Regions from separate parts of the Homo sapiens genome. Here region 1 is linked to region 2. Evidence: fine-mapped expression QTL. Tissue or cell type: whole blood. Region 2 holds a variant in brackets; the other region holds the start of a gene. All regions are shown on one strand. Distances are from middle to middle.

Region 1 (2,684 bases), 53 kb before region 2:
ACATCAGGCCGTTGGCACGGCCCGGTTCGCACGGGGCGCCACAATCGCGCTCACCCAGGAAGCGGTAGCCCAGGTACGGGGGCACCTTGAGCTGACGGGGGCATGAGAAGGGGAAGGCGGGACGCCCCCTGCCATCTGAGGCCCCCGGGGGCAGCGCGGTGAAGGGCAGGTCCGGCAGGTAGGGCGCGGTAGGGTAGGCAGTGGGGCCGCCGCCTGGGCCCCCGGAGCCGTCCGACGTGTTCTGGCCCACGCAGATCTCGCCCGCACCGTGCACCGGGAAGTTCTCGCAGCGCAGCCGCTCGGGCCACTGGAAGCCGAACTTGTTCATGAGCGCCTCGCAGCCCTGGCGGGCGCGCTCGCACAGAGAACGACACGGCGGGATGGCCTGATCGAGCACGGTGCACACGGGCGCATACATGGAGCATAAGAAAAAGCGGAGTTCGGGAGAACACTGCACCTTCACCAGCGGGTAGAACTGGTGCACCTCGAGGCCCGCGTCCTCTTGGTTCGTGTGGCCCAGCAGGTTGGGCAGGATGGTCTGGTTGTAGGCGATGTCCGTGCACAGCGGGATGGAGATGGGCTGGCAGAAGCCGTGGTCCGGCACGGAGATGCCCTTCTCTCCGTGGTACGGCTGCGCCCCGGCGCCCGCGGACAGTGCGCCCAGCAGCGCCAGCACCAGGGCACAGAGGCCCAGGGACGAAAGCGGAGCGGCCGCGCCGGGGTCCCGCATCGCCGGCCGCGAGTGCAGCGGTGCTCTCAGCCTGAGGAGTGCGACGAGGCGGTTGGGAGAGGCTTGGATGCGGGGAGGCGCCGCCGCGCCCGACGCATGAGAGTCCTCACGGCGCCGGGGCCGGGCCGTGGGCGGCGTGGAGCAAAGGGCGCTGCCGCCTGGGTGCCCGCGCCGCGAAGGCGCCGCAGACGCCGCCGCCCTGCACTCGCAGGGCCGCCGGGGGCCCAAAACTCGTCAGCCTGGGTTGGGGGCGCCGAGGAGGGCCGCCTCGCTCTCCCCGCGGGGACGTAACGGTGCGGCTCCCTCCGCCGCGAGGAGCAACAAGCGGCTCCGGCACCCTTCAAAGTTTGCCCAAGACTCTGGACCCCCGGCGCACCGCAGCGCGCACGCCCCCCGCGCCTGGTCCGGTCCCCGCTAGGAGAACCCCTGCCGCCGCCGCTCGCTCGCCCCGGCCGCCGCCTCCGCGGTGCTGCCCCGCCTCCTGGCCTCGAGGCTCCGCTCGTCGCCGCCTCCTTCGCCTCCTCCTCCACACCCCGCTCCTTCTTCAGCCCCAAAAGCTCGGCCCCAAGTTTCAGCCAAACGGCCGGCTCTTGCTGAGTCCGATCTCGGCCCCGGAGTCGGGAGCACGGCGAGTTCTTTTTGGAAACCCAGTCACACTGCGTCCGAAACCGCGAGGCGCTCGTGCCCGCGGCCTGGCCCCGGCCCCTCCAGCCCCTCGCAGCCCCAGCAGCGAGTCCTGGCGCCCGCCGCCGCCGCCGCCGCCGCCGCCCGCCGGGAGTGAGCGCCGACTAACGCCTCGGAGTCGCGCTGGTCGCCAGAAGAAGCGTCGGGCTCGCGGGGTTCCGGGCCGGCCCGCCCCCTCCCGTCCCCTCCCGTCCCCTCCCCTCCCCTCCCCTCCCCCCCCATTCACAAACCACTCCGGGGGCGGCCCCAGGCCCCGGCGGCCCAATGGCGGCCTTTGTTTTTTCGGTGGCCGCCTTCGGATTGGGCGGAAGTCGGAAGGGGCGGGCGCGGGAGTGGCGGAGGCGGTGTCCGCGGCGCTCTGGGCGGATTCCTGAGGGGAGGGGCGGGGGACTGGGAGGGAAAAGTTCGGAAAAACTTTTACCCTGAATTCGCTCAGGGACGAAAACGCGCAGAAAGGGAATTTGCTTCAAAGATTTGTTCCTCTTCCTGGTGCACTCAGATGCGCATTCCTGAGCAGGGGCGCCTTCGCCAGCGGCGTTTGAGGGGAGCGAGGACCGCGCAGCGCCCCTTCGGGGAGAGACGTGACCAGGAGTCGCGTTAGGACTGCAAAGGCTGGCTCTGGCGGGGCTTTCGGGTCGCCGGGTCCTCAATGTGGGGTTTGGGACGGGACGAGAAGGGGGTGCGCCTTGCGGATCGCCTCTTTCCCCCCGGACCCAAAGAGTCCACGCGAGGCCACAGTCCCCTCTCCCCTCCCCCGAGTTATAAAAAGGAGGAGGGGCCGCCTCCGAGGAGAAACCCGAGTCGGGCGGAGGGGGCCGAGTGACGGCGGGAGGAAGGACCCCTCGGAGGAAGGGCCCGAAGCAGGGAGAGCGGGGAACCCGGGCTCAGGCCACCCCGCCCGCGCGCACGGCCTGGAGTCTGGGGAACTGGGGTGACTCTAGCGAGGTTTTAAGGAAACGAAGACGGCGTTGGGGAGACTGGTTCTAGAAGTAACCTGAGACCGAGCGCCCAGGAACACTCTGTACGACGCGCCGGGCGTCTCAGTGGCCCCGTGTGCCTTGGTTCTGCGGCGTGTGCCCTTTCGGGATCCCATCTTCGTTGCAGAAGCAACCATTTGATCCTCCATTTAGAATCTGCGTAGGAATGTTTTAATGCGTCTTAGAAACCAGGCTAATTAAAGAGTTTTCAAAACACAAAGCGGGGTTATCCTCGTTCTCGGGTAGCGTTTTCTGATTGGCAAACGTTCTTTTGTTCTCGGTTAAATCTTCGT
Region 2 (2,684 bases):
GGTTTGGGGCAGGAATTTGTGATTAGGTCCTTTGTGAGGGACAGGTGACAGGACATAGCAATGCTTAGGCTCAAATCATCTTTTTTTTGTTCTTGGGTAGGAAGCTATATCCCAATTTACACAACCCAGATGAAAGTGTTCTGGTGACTTTTTGGAGGCCACCAGGATATGTGTTTAGAGTCTTGATCTAGTTGCTATTGTCTTAGTTAGTGTGGATGTAGCAAAGTCTTTAGCCTGCAGCTGTGACAACTTATACTCCTTAGGAGCAGGTCTGGGTGGAGAAACCCAGGGATGAGGTCCCCTGACCCAAGTCCGAAAAGCCCAGATGCCCTGATTTGGTAGAGAAGCAAGTCCTTTGGTACTGAGCTCCCCACCTGTCCCTCTCTGGTGCCTTTTGCTTCTGGGAAGAAGAGACCAGGGGGCATCAGGGAACCAATGTGGCTTGGCAGTTACTTTGCTTCTCTGAATTCCAGTCTGTTGGGAGTGTGACATCACTGGAGAGGATGCCAGAGGTGAGCACTGTGGGAACATTTCTGTTTTCTCCTGCTCTCCAGTCTGTCTGTAATAACAAAGATGAGGCAACTGATAACAGAGGTGAGGTAGTGGAGAGGTCAGCCGTTTGGCTCTGGAGTTAGACTCCCTGGGTTCAAGCCCTAGCTCTTCTGTACTGGGATCTTGGCAAATTCCTTGACCTCAGTGTGCCTGTTTCTTCATCTGTGAAATGGGGAGAATATTCTCACCACACAGGGTTGCTGAACGGATTAAGTTAGACAGTTATCATAGCTCACAGCACAGCACGAATGACCGGCTCACGTTAGTTCCTGCCGCCAAGCTTCTGGTTTGGCTGTGGCATAGGTTGAGAGCATCCCACCTCCCTGGCCCCTGGGTCAGGGCCACATACCCTCCTCTGGTTGTAGAACACTGGGAAATTACCCATGCTTTGTCTTTTCACTTTTCTTCAGAAATGTGGGACAGCTCAGTCTCTTTGGGTTCGTTGCCAGAACATGAAGCTCTAAGCAAAGCAGTGTGGCGCATATGGGACCACTTTTTGACAAGCTGGCTCCATGCAGGCCGCCAGGTGGAAGAACACTCTGATCCTCAGGGAAGCCAAATTCCAATAGACTCTGTGGGGTACAGCCAAGACAGGAAGCAGGCTCTAGTGTCCCCACATATTCTGGAACAGTGGTCTTAAGGGGGCCTAGAAGCTAGCCAGAATCTATGCAAATTACAAGGAAGCATTTGTCCTTTTCCCAGATTCTTAAAGGGGCCTGAGACCCCAAAATGGGAAAGAGTCATTGTCAGAGAGGACGATGACCTCAGACAGCCAGGAGGGGGAACCTGGACGAATGGCCCAACGTGGGATGATCATCAGTGGGTGGATCAGGCTCCTGCCCGGGGCTCCGCTGGGAAATGGCCATGTGTGAGAGTACAGGATGTAGGGCTGGTGCCATCAGAACACAACCACGTGTCTCCTGCTGGCAGGCAGTGGGGACAAGAAACCAAGAATTCTGCTGTTCAAATAAGCGATCTGGGTTGATAATATGACTGATATGAATACACTTGCTAATGGTTGTTCCCTTTTTAAGGTCCCAAATTAGA[A/G]AACATGACAGATTCAAGTTTCTGGTGGTATGTGGATGCTCCGAAACTTGCCGAGAGGATGAAGGGTATTGGTTTCTTTCTGGGGTGGAGATTTCCTTCATGAAGTAGTTTACCTCAAGTTTCTTCGTCTCTCTTTCTTTCTTTATGCCTGCCCTGTTCTCAGCAACAGGAAGAACCATGAACAATAACAATCACAACCGGTACCATTTATAGGACAGTAGCTGTATACAAGGCACTTGTGTTGAATGTTTTCTAGTTATTATCTAGGTTAATCCCAACACTATTCCTTGAATATAGGCATTATTATTTTACAGATGAGGAAACTGAAGCTCAGAGAGATGAACTCTCCTGCTAAGGTCCACAGCTAGTACACAGAGGAGCGTGGATGTGTGCAGTCCCTGCAACTCTGATGTCTGTGTACTGTCCTGCCACCTCCCACTCCGGCCCTGCATCACAGACTGGAGTTAAGAGTGTTACCCTGAGGCTGGCCAGGTGTGGTGGCTCACTCCTGTAATCCCAGCACTTTGGGAGGCTGAGGTGGGTGGATCACGAGGTCAAGAAATTGAGACCATCCTGGCCAGTGTGGTGAAACCCCGTCTCTACTAAAAATACAAAAATTAGCTGGGCATGGTGGTGGGCGCCTATAATCCCAGCTACTCGGGAGGCTGGGGCAGGAGAATTGCTTGAACCCAGGAGGCGGAGGTTGCAGTGAGCCGAGATCGTGCCACTGCACTCCAGCCTGGTGACAGAGCGAGACACTGTCTCAAAAAAAAAAAAAAAAAAAAAAAGAGTGTTACCCTGAGGCCAGGTGTGGTGGCTCACGCCACCCAATCCCAGCACTTTGGGACCGAGGCAGGCATATCACCTGAGGTCGGGACCAGCCTGTTCGGGACCAGCCTGACCAACATGGAGAAACCCCGTCTCTACTAAAAAATACAAAATTAGCCGGGTGTGGTGGCAAATGCCTGTAATCCCAGCTACTCAGGAGGCTGAGGCAGGAGAATCGCTTGAACCCAGGAGGCGGAGGTTGTGGCGAGCCAAGATTGCACCATTGCACTCCAGCCTGGGCAACAGGAGTGCAATGC

Evidence for each region. PIP is the estimated chance that this variant, and not a neighbour inherited with it, causes the effect.
Region 1: it holds the start of FZD7, and the variant in region 2 is fine-mapped to the expression of FZD7 in whole blood (TOPMed, PIP above 0.99).

What each region holds. Positions count from the first base shown.
Region 1 is chr2:202,032,694-202,035,377 of GRCh38, reverse strand. FZD7 (frizzled class receptor 7) reads right to left here and starts at 1,523. Exons shown (of 1, transcript NM_003507.2): 1 at 1-1,523. The coding sequence starts at 730. RefSeq lists enhancers at 482-601, 1-639 and silencers at 1,202-1,281, 1,392-1,941.
Region 2 is chr2:201,979,487-201,982,170 of GRCh38, reverse strand. No RefSeq gene overlaps it. Among named protein-coding and RNA genes, the nearest start is that of FZD7, 53 kb to the left of the region's middle. The variant A/G (reference allele first, on the strand shown) is at 1,600.